2 separate regions of the Homo sapiens genome follow, and region 2 is linked to region 1. Evidence: fine-mapped expression QTL. Tissue or cell type: nasal epithelium. Region 1 holds a variant in brackets; the other region holds the start of a gene. All regions are shown on one strand. Distances are from middle to middle.

Evidence for each region. PIP is the estimated chance that this variant, and not a neighbour inherited with it, causes the effect.
Region 2: ADAMTS12 starts here. The variant in region 1 is fine-mapped to the expression of ADAMTS12 in nasal epithelium (TOPMed, PIP above 0.99).

What each region holds. Positions count from the first base shown.
Region 1 is chr5:33,682,564-33,690,670 of GRCh38, forward strand. ADAMTS12 (ADAM metallopeptidase with thrombospondin type 1 motif 12) reads right to left here. Exons shown (of 24, transcript NM_030955.4): 4 at 1,296-1,492; 5 at 455-538. Among named protein-coding and RNA genes, the nearest start is that of ADAMTS12, 210 kb to the right of the region's middle. The variant G/C (reference allele first, on the strand shown) is at 4,000.
Region 2 is chr5:33,886,992-33,895,098 of GRCh38, forward strand. It overlaps ADAMTS12 (ADAM metallopeptidase with thrombospondin type 1 motif 12), which reads right to left and starts at 4,999. Exons shown (of 24, transcript NM_030955.4): 1 at 4,739-4,999. The coding sequence starts at 4,865. It also overlaps the pseudogene RNU6-923P. RefSeq lists enhancers at 4,281-4,782, 4,783-5,282.

The DNA of each region.
Region 1 (8,107 bases):
ATAGATGAAATCCCCAAAGGTAAACGTGCAGATAGACAAGAGGTCCCAAATCTGAGAGGCTTGTGTTAAATATGCAAGAAGTAAATTAGTAGTATCAAAGGTTCGACATTTCCATGTCTTTCTTACCTTTTACTGAAACCATCCAACCATGTCATGATTTAGTCTATTTCTTTTGCAGAACATCTTTAGTGACTGCGGTGAGTCTCATGTGTATGTTATTAGATACAATGACTGTCAAGAGATTTCAACTATGTATATTTTGGAAATGTTATCCACATCCCGCTCAGTATCACTGAACTCCCAAGGGAATAACACAGAAATAATATTTTCCTTCTCGATGGGCTTCCAAACACTTTCTGGTACCCTCTTTCTTGTCTACCAAGAACTCCCCTGAAAAAAAGAAGGTAGGAAGTGCGAGGACATATAGCAGAAGAGTGAAGGGAAAAAATGTTACCTCTTCTTCTTCGAGTAGAATGAGCCGAACCACAACAATGTGAATTGCATTGCCAATGCTTGGGTTATGGAACAACCCAGTGACCTAGGGTCAGAAATAGAAAACCATTAGCTCCACACGAAGAGATAATAAATAAATACCAGAGAAGAAAATAGCATTGTAATGCACATAAAATAAAGGTTTTCTTATAGGTCAGAAATGTTTGGCGGTGTGCTAAGAAGAGTGAAATATGCCCACAGCTCATTCCACATTACAATATTTAAACAAAATCTTTCAGGGTGATAGCTTGGCTGTGTGTTTGAAGGATTAACATTTTTCTTTTCTTAACCCAGCCCACAGTATTCTCCTCTTCTATTATCAGTTACTCAGGCAAATACCTTTTCCCACCTCAATAGGACTAACATCTTCTTGAAGGCAGAAAACATCAACAATGCAAAGAGAAAGCTTGAAATTAAGAGTCATTAACTTTATTCCAATTCTATTTCTAACTACTTTGAGGAAATTATGTTCTAGTTCTTTGCCTCAGTTTACTCCTTCGGTTTACTAACATAAACTGATGAGACAAAGCCACACGAAAAGGATTGAGTCACTTGGAAAATACCTACCAGAAGTATGTAACTAATAAATTATAAAATGTTCCCAGGATACACATCTTTAAGGGAAAGACTAATTCATCCTGAATTTCCATCCATATTCATCCTTAGGCAGGTACTAGATTCACATATATATTTATAAAAATAAGTTAAAAGGACCCCAAAAAGGCCTTTCTTATTTATTTATGTAAGCATTTCTAATGACATCTGTTCACTAGCTGCCCCAGCCCCCATGTAGTCTGGCATACCATGTTCATGATGGTGAGGATGTAGGACTCCACATTCTCACTCCCATGGTATTCAATCATCTTTGTGTCGGCCACCACCAGTGTCTCCACCCATCTCTCCTTGCTGATGGAACGCCGAGAGAGGCTTCTGCTTGGCAAGTTGTGCCTCTCCCACTTCTCCCGCCATAGCTCTTGCTTCTGGGAGATGTTAACACTGTCTAAACAGTAAACAGAAGACAATGGTCTAACACTGTATATGTCTCATATATTATCTACTTATGTTAGTAAAGATGCAAGGCCATAAGTTTAATTTACATTTAATAATATAAACGCAATGTTTTTACGTACATAACCAAAATAGACCAATTTAAATGAATATGACCAAGAGAAATTTGAATCTTACAGAGAGGTTCAAAAAGTACTTTATAAAAATGTTTCTTACCTATTACATTAAATTATGTCTTCCACTATTGAAAAGACGTACCCAACAATGGGAACTTTCTCTTTCTTCTCCTCCTTTAAATTATTTAGTGCCTACTGTGTGCAAGGCAATATACCTGGCTTTTAAATGCCACATTGTTTATCCTCATGAATGACAGAGGTACATATTCTTCTCTCCATTTTGCAAATGTGGAAATTGATGCTCAAAGTGGCTGGTTAAATAACTTACCCAGAGTTGTGCAGCCCATCAGTCAGTAAAAGATCCAGTACTTTCTATGCCCCAAAATCATGCATTTTTAAAAATATACATCACACCGTTTCCAACAGAGTAAACATGTATAAAACTGTAGTATATATAAGCTGAAAACCTGCCAAAGGTTCCAGGCATTCCACTTGAAGAAGGCACAAAAAGAGGTGGAAAAGATCCAAAGGACAGCAAAACTATCAAGGTGACTAACAGGTTTTAGTATGAAAAGGATTTGATACATGAGGGTCATGGTTTGGAAGACGAAATCTAGGAGAGGCTATAGAATGATAAAGAAAGTCAGACAGTAGCTGCACGGAATCATTCTCAAAATCCCAGAATACTGTAAGTAGGGAGCATATTCTAACTTGAAAGAGGTCTGTTTAACACCAAAACGAATAAAAGGCTACTTCGCACATCAGGAAGCAGGTACTTAACCCAAGTGGAAGTCAAGTGTAAAAAGTTCCAGTGGGCTCAGAATGGCTTAGGGAGCCGAGGAAGACAGGTTGACCAGAAGAGAGTAAAGAAAGAAGCCTGGGCTGATACAGGGCAGCGCCTGGGTCTTTGAAGATTCCTATCAGGATCACAGCCACAAACACTTCCTGCCTCTCCCTCATCTGCACCCTGGGCCCCTGGCAGGGGCAGAACATCGAAGCAGAGTGGCAAACCTCATGTCCCCTTCCTAATCTCTGGTAATGGCCATCCAGTCTGAACTTGAAAACTTCCAGCAGGAGGAAGGGACACTCAACAACTCACAGGGCATCTTGTTCTATTGGGAAATTCTCGACTGCATTGAGCTGAAACCTGCCTCTCTGTCATTCCTCCTCGTTAGCTCTGGTCCTGTTCTCTGAAGCATCTAGGACTATACCTCCTCCTGAGGCCCTGCCTCAGACCCTGAGTTGGGACAACTAACACCATATCCTGCCCTCTCCCTTGGTACTCTCTAGGCTGTGGAGTTGCTTACACTGATTTGTGTGTAACCCTTCCTGGTTCCTCAGTTTCTCTGTCCATATGAATTTAGACATGTTTGGCGATATTGACAAAAGAAATGAAACATCATCATAGGTCTAAATAAATTCAAACTCTAGCGTTGTGAGTTTTACTTCAAAATAATAATGCTGTACTTCAATATAACACTTCTGAGAAATAATCTAGGATTATGTAAACTTTGGAGGGAAGTCCTGTGAAGATTTAAAAATGGGGAGATGGTTAACCCCTCATTTGTGCTGGAACCATTTTCTAGTTTCCTTCTCCACTCACTTTGCATGGGGAAGCATGAATTCCCTAAGAAATGTCAAGATTTTATCAATGGTTTCTAACTTTCTGAAACCCCCTCCCTCATTGCCCCATCAGCTTTTTGTCCCTGTTTTGAATCTCACATGAATGTTTCAAACCGCTATCTGCTTTCAAATGTCTCTGTGTAAGCCAAGCAGCCAGCCCACTTTAAGCCCACGTGGGCTGGTGTTTTCTGAAACGGCTGTTACAGGTTGGGCTGAGTACAGGAATCCTGTCAACATGGATTCGGTCTCATCTTTCTCTAAGGCCCCTCCTATTTTGCTGGGTGGGGACAGGTCTGTTCTAATCAGGAGGCTGCTCCATGCCGCCCTGACCTTGTGTGTGAGGGTGACTGGCAGACAGTTTTCTCACCCAGTGCCCTCACAAAGCCCTTGGGGCCTTAGCCCTTCTTCTCCCTTGGCCCCCGCAGGCTCAGCCTCCCTCCCCTGGGTGCCGGTCCCCTCACAGAGGCTTCAGCTCACCTCAGCAGGCAAAGACTGTGCTGTGCACAGCCCCTCATTAAAGCAGAACCCTGTGCTCCTGGCTGCAGCCTCAGTCCCCACCCTCAGATATCTACCGTTAGGTGCTAGCAGGAAGCTGTCATGGGTGAGAAGCGTGTAGAAAAAAGAAGTAGTTTCTCTGCTTCCCTTGGTCCTGTGTTTCTTTACTTCTTCTTTACTCTCCCCTTTTTCTACCTTTTATCCCTCAGTGTTGAAAAAGAGAGTTGCTAGGCACTGAATGTTTGCATCCTGCCCAGACGCAGAT[G/C]ATGAAGCCCTAATCCCCAAGGTAATGGTATTTGAAGGTGGGGCCTTTAGTTGGCAGTTAGATCGAGATGAGCTTGTGACAGTGGAGCCCCCATCATGGGATTAGTGTCCTTATAAGGAAAGGAAGAGACATCAGAGCCCTCTCTTTCTCTCAGAGAGAGGAGACATGAAGACACAGCAGGAAGATATATACACCTCTCTCTCTATATATATATATATATTCAGTGCCTATATATATAGAGAGAGAGAGGGAGAGAGATGTATATATCTTCCTGCTGTGTCCTCATCTGTCTCCTCTCTCTCTATATATATATGTAGGCACTGAATATATATACACATATTCTCTATATATAGGCACTGAATATATATATATATAGAGAGAGAGAGAGAGAGAGCAAGAGAGAGAGAGATCTTGGACTTGATCTTGGACTTCAAGTCTCTAGAATTGGGAGAAATAAATTTCTGCTGTTTAGGACACCCAGTCTATAGCATTTTGTTATAGCAGCCTGAGCTAACTAAGACATGAGTTTTTTTTTTTTAAAGACATCTTTAAAGTCCAAGTTACTTTCATTTTTCCAGCAAATAGGTAGTTACTCAGTAGTAAACAGTCATATAGGAGGAAATGTGGAAATGAGAGATGAGGTCTGCTAAAGGCATATATCTATTTGAAATTTTTCAACAAAACCTACATTAAGCACTTATGAAAGTTCAGGTCCTATACTAAGCACATAGCACCATACCTCATTTAACTTGCCAAAAATCTATGAGATAAGCCCTCTTATGATCACCATCTTATAGATGAAGGACCCGAGGCTCAAAAAGATTAGGTAATTTTCCTAAAGTCACATAGTAAATGACAGATTCAGCCATCTGTGTGATTCCACTACAGCAAAAACAAACATTTATACAATAGGTTTTCTGGGCAAGGCCCAAGTTACTCTCCTGAATAGAGACAAAGGAGTATGTGACGTGATCCTTGACTTTATGCAAAAACCAATCTACTTGTGGGTAATGAGACATGAACATAAGAAAAATTGTCATCACTGGGGTTCAAGTAATTCCCAAAGAGAAATATCAGTTATATTATAGATAGTGCCGGAAGCTTTGCGGAAGTGGTAAGATCTGAACTGGGCCTTAACAGGACTGAGCTGGGGGAGAGGACTGTATATATGTGGGCTGACTCTGCGGAGTTCTAGTGAAATCTCAGATTTGATGGAAGAAATGTTTCTGCTACGCAATTTCAGAAAGTACAAGAAACCAGCCCTACACATTTATCTCTAAAGCTGATGACAAAGACAGCTAGTTCTTTGGGTCAGGTGAGGGGCTGATGATTCTGGGAAGCTCCCCTCACTATTTCCCATCATACACATCACTCTGTTTAGAGACCCCTCTTCTCAGCTGGCATAGCTTCTGGCCACACCTCAACCTGAGTACTTTTTATATTGCTATAATTTCCTGTTTTAAATAACAGGACTCTCTAATTAGGCTTTAAGCAACTAAAGGGCTAGAAAAACATCTTCTTTGGCCTTTGCCCCAATCCTAACACCATAACAGGCAAAAGTGGCACCCAGTAAATACCAAATGCACAAGCAAAGAACTGAAGATGAATCAGAACCAATGTATGAACCACAAGCAAAGAAGAATTGCCAGGTTTGTCCATTTTTTCCATTCGATGACTTTTTTCATTTAAGGAATTCTCCCCACTGAGACCATGACATGTTTGTTTCAAGCAGAGAAATCCAGCCAAACGGGCAGCTTAAGCAAGGAAAATTTCCAGTGCTGAGAGAGGACAGTGAAATGATTTTCCTAAATGGAAGCTAACAGAGTGCAGATGTCTGTCCAGCGTTGTCTGAGGTGCTCAGGATACCTGACCACTAACAGAACAGAAGTCCTAGAAGATCCCTGGAAAATGCAATTTACCGAGTACTTTTTCCTTCCCCACATACTGCAGGCAGCTCTTCACAAAGCTCTATTTAGGGATTTTGCAGATGGCAGAGCCCTCACCTGCTGATCTCTGAGTCAGTGTCCACGGCAGCCAGGCATGGATCACGCCTTGACGAAGCCACACAGAGAACCTGGAGTAGTGCTAGGGAGCAAAGAAACTGAACATAGATGGCAGAAGACTCTGGAAATTACAGTTTCCAGTACATTCTGGAGTGCTTTTTAACATGCCAGTAGTTTCCAGTGTGAGCAATGAGGCTGCTTATTCTACTTAGAAAATTGCTCAAGGCTCTGCCTCCAGCCCAACCCTTCCCTCATCTGGATTCTCTTCTACACCCTTATATCAGATTTCCAACAGAGAAGGATTTCTGCCCAGCCCACGCAGGTTGACCACTAACTGGACATTGGCCACTAATTACTACTGCCTTGTTTGAGGTCCAGCTTCCCCCAAGATGACCTTCTCAAGTTGATCTTCTCCAGCCTACACTGCAGCTTCCAGACAAATGAGACCCAGTACCCTAACTGTCCCACCTTTCTGTCACCACTTCTGCAAGGTTTCTGAAACATGACACCTGGGCAGCAACACAGCAACATAGACACTAACAGCCATCTGGGATCCAGTGCCTATCAAGAGCCCAACTGGTGCTAAACACTCTTGGATTTGATCATTTATCTTAATTCTCACATTAAAACATGTAGTAAATCTTATTGTCATTTTAAAATGAGAAAGCTGAGACACAGAGAGATTATAGAGTTTATTCAAAGTCTCATAGCCAGTAAGCAGCAGGACCAGCATTTTAGCTGGTTTAGTGTGAATCTTATTTAACTTAGTGGCATGGAGATGGGGATGGGGTTTCTGGGATCATCTGCCTAATAAAATTTCAGCATGAGGAATGGAAAGGATCAACTCAAAAAAAAAAAATCATACATAGAAGAAGTTCGACCCCAAACCAGCTGAGTCCTAGTCCTCCAGGTCCCCACCAGTCTTCAGCAATGCATGAAGGACATTTGTCTACGAGTGCAGTAGGAGGTAGGTGACCTTTTGATACTAGATTTCTGGAGACAATATCCTGCTTCTTTATATAACTCAGACAAGTGCTACTCAGGGAAGATATTCTGGACCCAGTGTTGAGGGCTGGAGAGATGGTACCAGGAAAAAAGAAGGAAAGCATCTTAAGACTAATAGGTCCTATCCAGGCCCACTATTGATAGCTGCTTGCTCCCCATGCCTACTGGCCTGACCCAAACCACCTGTGACCTTGGACAAATATTACTATCTCTTCCCCTGTCTAATGAAGAAACTGAATTGAATTCCTATTTTTTTAAGGGTCATGGAACCTTTCCTTGATACAAAGATTATGCAAAAAGTAAAGAAAAGAATGAACCCCAAAGTTGCTGGGGTCATGGGGTGTGGTGGGTGGCCCCAAAGGGGATTCCACATGGTGCATCTTTAAACCACCAGCTGACACCATATCTGGGGTTCTTCCAGTTCTAGTGTTCTCTGAGTTGGGCGAACACACGTTCCCACTGCCAAGGCATAATTGTGAGCTATCTGCCACTACCACACACTTGCACCCAGATCCTCTTCTTGGCAGGTCATTGTGGCCTTCCCCAGCAGAGTCAAACACCAGTGCAGGTGTGTGCATCCATTAGCAACAAGGGCTGAGCAGCCCGAGGGGCCCATCTCTCCAGGCCAGCTTGGGTATATTTGAAGGGTCTCTGTAGGAAGCTCATTTTTACTCCACAAAAAGTTTACCACACTAACTGAGAACAAAAAATATTTTTTTACATTTAAGTAACAGACTATCCATTTCTCAAAACTGGCCATTGTTGAAGTACAAACAGCTGCCTTTAAAGAAAGAAATGAAGCAACCTGAGTCTAAGTTGTTAGAAACTGCTAGATCCCCAAAACAAGTACATCCTAGCTTAAGAGTATGGACAAAAAGTATAAGCACCTGAAAAAAAAAAAGAAAGAAAGAGATGTATTCTCAAAGGCTGGATGGTCCTGCCTGACACTGCACTCACTTCATTCAGAATATGTCAAAAAGGAAGATGGAAATGGTAGATCATTTGGGACACATGACTCTTCCCAAAATACCAACATAATTACATCAAATGTAAGTAAAAAGGATGTTTGAAGATCCTTCCAGAGAGTCAATAATCTGAAT
Region 2 (8,107 bases), 200 kb after region 1:
ATCACTGTGGACATAAACATGTGTAACCTCCAAGCAGAGACAGGAGAGAAGCCCACACTCACCATAGCCTCCTCTCCGCAAGCTAAGATTAGTTTGGCAGATTTGTTAGCTATAATCTTGGCCAATGAAAGCAGAACTCAGAGGAGATATGACAGCGATGGAGAAATAGGTGTCAAGAAATAATAATAGCTCCTAATTTTTATCATTTCTATGGTCAAGTACTACATTAAGAGTATGCCGGCTTGGTCTTATCTAATCCTCACAGTTCTCTGAGTAAGCATTATTAACTGTATCCCTCATCTGGGACTATACTTCCATCTCCGTAAAGTGACAACAGTGAGGGATGAGGATTTTTTCCTGGGCAATCGGATCCCAGAGCACACACTCCTAAGCTCTGCCCTCACTGTGTGCATCTCCAGGGTCTGTCACCTAGCACAGATGTCAAGGCGGGTTGTCAATAAGGTGTGGGGTTGGGAGGGCCAGAGGCTGAGATACATGAAAATTACATCACAGTTTATACAAGGGTTTGTAGAAATATTATAAGCTCCAAATACTTTGATTTGCCTTGTTTAAAATTATATTTAAGGCCTCAGTCCACAAGTTTCAATGGTACTTCATGAGAAATTCAAGTAAAGGCTACTGGCACAAGCACTTTTGAAAACACAAAACAAGGCATCTTTTTCCCTCAGCTTAGAAAGGACAGAGGTAAGAGAATATTTACCTACTAGTTGTATACAGTTTAGGCTCAGTCTATAGTAGTTATTCTTTTTTTTTTTTTGAGACAGAGTCCTGCTCTGTTGCCCAGGCTGGCATGATCTTGGCGGCCCACTGCAACCTCTGCCTCCAGGGTTAAAGAGATTTTCCTGCCTCAGCCTCCTCAGTAGTTGGGACTACAGGCATGCACCACCACGCCCGGCTGATTTTTGTATTTTTAGTAGAGATGGGGTTTCACTGTGTTGGCCACGCTGGTCTCGAATTCCTGACCTCAGGTTATCCACGCACCTCGGCCTCCCAAAGTGCTGGGATTACAGGCATGAGCCACCACGCCGGCCTATTCTTTTTTCTTTTTAATGGAACGCTTCACAGATTTGCATGTCATCCTTGAGCAGGGGCCACGCTAATCTTCTCTGTATCGGTCCAATATTAGTATATGTGCTTCCAAAGCGAGCATTATCTGTACTTATTCTTTATATTTATTTCTATCTTAGAGACAATTGAATTTCTCAGATCCCTTTCTAAAAAACAAGATTATGAAATTCCTGTAATAGAGGTTTATTTTCATAATTATCTTCCATGTAAGATAACTGTAACCTTGCAACGCTATTTTTATTATAGAAATTTACACATGTTGGAATGTTGTGAAGAACTGTGTTGGGCTCCTCAAAATTGTAAAGTATGCCACAGAAGGTTGGATTTGCTCATAAACTTTATGATAACTAATGTGCTAACTGTATAGATTATTATAATCAACACAAAATATCAAATCTGTGAACTCTCTTTTTACATTAAGAAAATAGCTGAAATCCTTTCCTCCTTGCAGAATTTTTTTAATAGAATACATAAATAATTAAAACTCTTATCTGAAAACACTGCAACATTCCCTCTGTTTCTTGCACAAGCCTGGAGTTCATCTCTAATATGGAATAAAGTGACTGTCCTGTTGATTTCACAGAGATGTCAGGAGCAAAAGAGGTCATGGAACAGACTGGCGCTTTGTAAACAGCATAGGGGTAAACAAACCTAAGGGGATATGATTGGCTGTAGAAGACACGCAGCATGTTGTGTGCAAGATTAATATTTCCCGTTGTTCTGATACTTGGTTGTGAACCAAGAAATCCTGTGTAAGTCACAGCACATTCCTATATCACAACTGAGCAATGTGGAAAGAATACTGGGCAGTTAGTCAAATAGCCTGTTTCTATGTTTCTAGTCCCAGAAAGGACTGGATTTATCTCCATACTCCTTCCAACGACTAAAATCCTGACTTAGCCCAACTCTTAGAACTAGAAGGAACCTAAAAGGTAATGTAGTGTCTGAATCTGTCTCCAAATGTGGAACCCTGTGCAATTCCCTTTACCCTCCTCGTGAAGGGGCATTTATTAGGTGCTCAATCATATATGTTGACTAACTGATGCCCTAGACCTCCCATTCCTTATCCATAAAAGTAAAAATGGGGGCGAGGCATGATGGCTCATTCCTGTAATCGCAGCATTTGGGGAGGCTGAAGTGGGAGAATTGCTTAAGGCCAGGAGTTCAAGATCAGTCTGGACAACATAGCTAGACCTCATCTCTATTAAAAAAAAAATTAAATATTTCAAAAATAAGAATGGGTGAGATGATCCTGAAGTAATTTGCAAGTTTAAACGTTCAGGATTTGAATGCATTCAAAAATGCTATCAAAGTGGAAATGGAAGTCTAAGGAGATTGGTTATTTGTGAGGCTGTAGGTAGGTCATTTGGAGGGAAAAACCCAGGCCATCCTAATCCCAGATAGCCTTAGAATTTCATTCTCTACTGGTTTGCCCTCATCCATCCCTTCCTCCCTCTTTGTGACTTTCCTTCTTAATTCTAAATGTAAGTCTGCTTAGAAATTTCTCCTTTGCACCAAATGTGGATTATTTGTAAATCCACTAGGGAATTGATTGTGGTTGGTGAAATGCTTTTAAAAACTGAAATTATTGGCTGGGTACAGTAGTTCACACCTGTAATCCCAGCACTTTAAGAGGCCAAGGTGGGCAGATCACCTGAGGTCAGGAGTTGGAGACAGCCTGGCCAACATGGTGAAACCTCGTCTGTACTAAAAATACAAAAATTAGCCGGGCATGGTGGCACACGTCTGTAATCCCAGGTACTTGGTTGGCTGAGGCAGGAGAATCACTTGAACCCGGGAGGCAGAGGTTGCAGTGAGCTGAGATTGCACCACCGCACTCCAGCCTGAGAGACAGAGCAAGACTCAGCCTCGAAAAACAAAAACCTCTAATTATTTTTAAACCTAAATAAATATATATATCACCAATAAGCTTGGAGCACTTTATAGGTTTTTTGAACAGTGGATACTCTCAGCACATAGCTCTAGATAGAGGTGACTAGGGAAAATAATCATATCTCACTTTCCAGAGAGCAAAAACCATGGCCCCGTGGTGTCTGCTTCACACCAAGCTGAATTCCCTTACAAAGAAGATGTGGAGCAGAGCTGAAAACCAACCCAGGAGAATGTGTGTCTTTGAACGAAATCATCTCCAAATGCCCTGGGAAGTGCTTGCAGGCTTTGTTTGTGCTGCCCCAGAAGGGAGACTTTTCACAAAGGAACTGTTTTTCAAAGAACAACAAGCCCTGCTATTTTAAACTTGGGGGTGGGAGATTGTATCTGGACCGTTTACACAAGTGAGTGCTGGCTGACTGACATCTAACCCCAGTGTTTGCTGGCTCCAGCTTTCCAAGTAAAGCAAAGAGAGGGACTTGCTTCTGATACGTCTTGAAGCCACAGCAGATGAGTTGTCCAGCAATATTTGAATTTTACAACATGAGCAGAAAACCCTGCTTAGAAATCCTAAACAAGGACAGGCTGGTGATGTTTATCACCCGAGTGGCCTTGGGAATTAAAGGGATGTCAGAAAGTCATGGAGGACACTTCCCGAGGCTTCAGCACAGTCAGCAAACACAGGACTTAGTGCATGCTAACCCAGTGCTCTGTGTGCGTGTGCATGCGTGTGGGTGCATATGCGTGTGTGTGTGCGTGTGTGTCCCTATTATTGCTACAGGACAGTGCTGCATGATTCTAAGAGTCAGACTACCTGAGCTGAAAACTCTGCTCTACATTAGCTGGCCTCATAAGCTCTCCAAGCTGCAGCATCCTCATCTGTACAGCAGGGACAGCAACACTGGTACCTGCACCCTGGAAGGCTATTGCCAGTGATCGGATGGGCTGACACAGAGTGCCACGCGGGCCATTGCTGCTGCTAGGACTGTTTACCCCCAGAGGTACAATGAACCCCCCACCAAACATGAAGGTGCCTCTGACCCTTCCAAGTCCAATAAACTGCTGACTGTTAGGCTTAAAAGAATAAAACAACAACAACAAATTGTCCACCAGAACGCTTCCAATGCTTCCTACAATAACATGAGTTCAGAAATTCATAAAGAGAAGCAGCCAGCTGTGGTCAGTGAGACAGGACAGGAAAAAGTGAGCCCTTATGGAGGTATAGTTCCCCCAAAAGGACTATTCTTTCAAAAATACAACCCTAAATCTTTCCAGGAAACCAAAACACAGCCAAGCCTGCTCAGTAGGGGGGAAGAATCACATTTCCCCTTTCCTGACCAGAGGTTTAAAACTAACTAGAAACACTGCAATGACGGCCAGTAGCCAGTTAGCACTTAAAAAAAAAATTTTCCATGTTTAGAGTCTGAAAAATAGGGGATCAAAACAGTACAGCATTCAAAGAGGAGACAAAAGAGAAAAAGTTACCAGCTACCTCTTGGGTCTTTCAAAGACTGCAGTGTCATCCCTGTAAAAGAGTGAGGTACTCACCTTTCTATAAGAATGAAGGACTCATCACCTTAAGCACTGAATTCTGAGAAAGCCTAGGCTCCTGAGGTCCCAGCCCAGATTTCCTTACAACGCAGCCAAATGGCTTTTCAGAGTTCAGTTCTGCCGGGTGGGGGAAGGGAAAGGGGAGCAACAAAATTCCCGCAAGTCTTACCACCACTGTTTTAAAAAGAAATAAAGAAGAGTCACTAACCTTGCCTCCTGTCCGGGAAGCGAACCGGGCCTGGCTGAGGCTGTCTCCCATAGCAAAGCGCCCCAAAGTTAAGGAGCTGAGCCACCACGGAAAGGTTTGCAAGCCAGCTCCTCTGGGCACATGGCATGATTCAGATGTTGAGGAGAAGAAAAGTCAAAAAAGTTTTAGCCCTCAGCTCCAGAAATAAAGCGCTCGCCTGTGGCCCAGCAGGAAGATGCAGGGGTGCATGGTCAGGCGCGAGAAGGCAGCGACTGCAAAGCTGCCCGCGATCTCCCTGTGCTTTTTTAAGCAGAAAGGAGCTAGACACCTTTTTCCCCTCCCTCCTCCTAAAAGGGGAGTGATTCAGCTGACAGTGTCCGCTTTCGGCGGGGTGTGGAATGGGCCAGAGCGGGAGGGCGCAGCCCACCCCGGTCCCCACCCCTCCGCCTCCCGCATGCCCCGCGGCCTCGCAGCCCGCCCGCTCGGTGCATCTTCCTCCCGGACTCCCACCCCCGCGCTCCTCCGGCCCCGCCCCGAACGCCAGGCCCAGCTGGCCGAGCCGGCCAAATAGGGGAGACCCGGGAGAGCCGCCCTGGGAGGCACTGGAGGAAGCTGCGAGTGAGAGGCCCCCAGGCCAGCCCCCCGGCGTGCTTAAATACAAGCTCAAAATGAGGAGAACAGAGTTGAGGCAGAGGGGGGCCCCACTCCCTCCATCCTTCCGCGCTCAGCGCTGCCCCCTCCCCTGCTGTTCTCCTCCAAGTTCCTGAACTTTTCCCAACATCGCTCTATCAAGACTCCTCACCCACTCGGACCGCTCTGGGATTCTCTTCCACTGGAAAAACTAATAGGCGATTTTTCTCTTTGCCAAGTCACACAAAGGGAAATGGGCTGCGCTAATCTGCTAATGTGACCTCAGACAAGCCCCCTCAGCTGTGCAATGAGGTGACTGCTGCAAATGCCTGTGGGCCCCTCTGAGTCTGCAGATCTCTGTGCGGCTCTTCTGATTCTAGAACCCCATCTTTCCTAGCCCACCTCCATTCACTCAAAAGGAAACCAGGAATTAAGTCAACCCAGGAAGGTGTTAAGGTATCTCCCCAGTTTCCCTGAACTGGCTACCCTGGAGAGGGCGTCCATTCATTCAGAGGCTCAAGCTTTTACATCGGTCAGAGAATGCCACAATCCAGGACGCTTGCCAGGCATCTTGAGAATTTACTGGGCTAATCCAGCCAAGATTTTTCACCTCTGAGCTGAAACAGGCCTCCTTACTCCATTCAGGAAGAATTCGGCCCCCAATATTGACTTTTCCCTGGCTGCCAGCCAACCACATGTGTTAATCAAGAGTTCTGGGATACCAGCTTACTCAACCTTGTATAGGGACAGAGCCTCCAAGGCAAACTCAGTGGTCTGAAAGCAAGGTGGTCCTCTCAGATGTGGAACACATGGGCACCAAGACTTTGAGAGGTATATGCTAGTTTCCTATTTTTGGTGTTACAAGTTACCATAAATTCAGTGGCTTGAAACAACTCAAATTTCTTATGTGACAGTTCTGATCTGAAACTGGTCTCACTGGGCTAAAATCAAGGAGTTAGCACAGCTGCATTCATTTCTGAAGACTCTAGGGGAGAATCTGTTGTCTTGCCTTTTCCAACTTCTAGAGGCTGCCTGAATTCCTCAGCTCATGGCCCTCTTCCCCCATCAAAGCTAGCAATGGCCCTTTGAGTCTTTCTCACATCACATCACTCTTCTTCCTCCCTTTTCCACTTATAAGGACCCTTGCGATTACATTAGACTCATCCTGGTTAACCAGGACACTCTCCTAATCAGCTGATTAGCAACCTTAATTCCATCTGCAACCTTAAATCCCCTTTACGTGTAACAGAACATGTTTTGTTGTCACAAGCAAGTAAAAGAACTACTCTGAGCCTTTTTTCTGTTACGTAAACATTAGGAAGCAGGATCACAACTGGAGTTAAAAGACATTCAGATAACACAGGCATGATGACCTGCATTTGCAAGGGCATTGAAGAACAACTTTGGGCTAGAATTCTTTTTGCTTCTTTTCTTTTCTTCCTCTTCCCCTTCTTCTTTGCTTCCCTTCACCCTTTCCTTGTTTCTCTCTCCTCCTTGTACTCTTCTGTCACTCTTCTTCTTCCACCTTTTTTTCTCCTGCTGCTCCTTTTAATAGCAAGCAAGATCTTGTCCAAAGGGCAAGATCACTCCTAGCTCCCAGGTCCTGGAGAAGAGATTTGTCTCTCAGGCAGAAACCTGAAGAACTCTGGAGAACTGCTGAGTTCCACCAATATCAGGGATGATACACTGAACACTCTGGCTTCACAGTTTAGCCTCTTCAACTCTAATGGCATTTCCCTTATTCTTTCTCCCATCTACTCTCAAGACCATAACCAGGAATATCTATTATCCATAAGTCAACCAAGACTGAAATATTAAAATTATAAAATCCCACCAACACTTTGTATTCTGCCAGCCCTTCCAAACCTTTATACCCAGTACCTCGGATCTTCAGCCTAGTAGGAACTTCTAGTTCCTTGATCTCCCCATCTTTGGTTTTCTAATAATCAGCATCTCTCTGGACTCACCACCTTTTTTGCCCAGTCATACCCTTTGATCCACCTCCTTAAACCAGTACATTCAACATCTCATATCTTCCTCATCAAAATCTAACTCTGTTTTACCCTAGCTGCTGATTTTCTCTGCTCTCTGTTTCCAAGTGCTGTTGAAAAAACTCACATAATTGCATCTAATTGTGCAACTATCAATTCATGTCTCCAACTTTAGCACGTTCTCAACATGACTTAGCACAAATATACATTCTGCTACTATTCTAACGTTCCTCCTACTCTTTCCAGAATTTACAAAAATCTCTCCAAAGCTTGGAGTTACCTCAGCGTAGAGAGACTTAATCCTCCTCAACTTTGCTTCTGCTTAATGAGAAAAGGTAACAAATCCCCTTGGTGACCAAGGTTGGTAGCAATAAAAAAGCCAACTACCTCTCCTGCCCACTGTAGATAGCAGAACTGTGAATCACTGCATAGTATCCAAACTACCTCTGAGCTTATACAAACATGCTGCCCTTGAGGAAACACTACAAAACCATGCAAGATTCCAGAGTTGAATGATAGCTAAGAATAGCAAGCATTTATTACATGCTGACTATATGCTTGGCTCTGTGCTAAAGACTATATGGGTATTGCTTTACTTAAACTTCATAAAAAACTTATTATGTGGGTACCATTAGTATCTTCATTTTATAGATGAGGAAACAGACACTGAAAGGTTAAGTAACTTGCCTAGGATTAAGTGGCTGTGAAAGTAAAATCAGGATGAAGCACTAAAGTTCAGAGAAGTTAAAAGATGTAGCAAAACCACTAA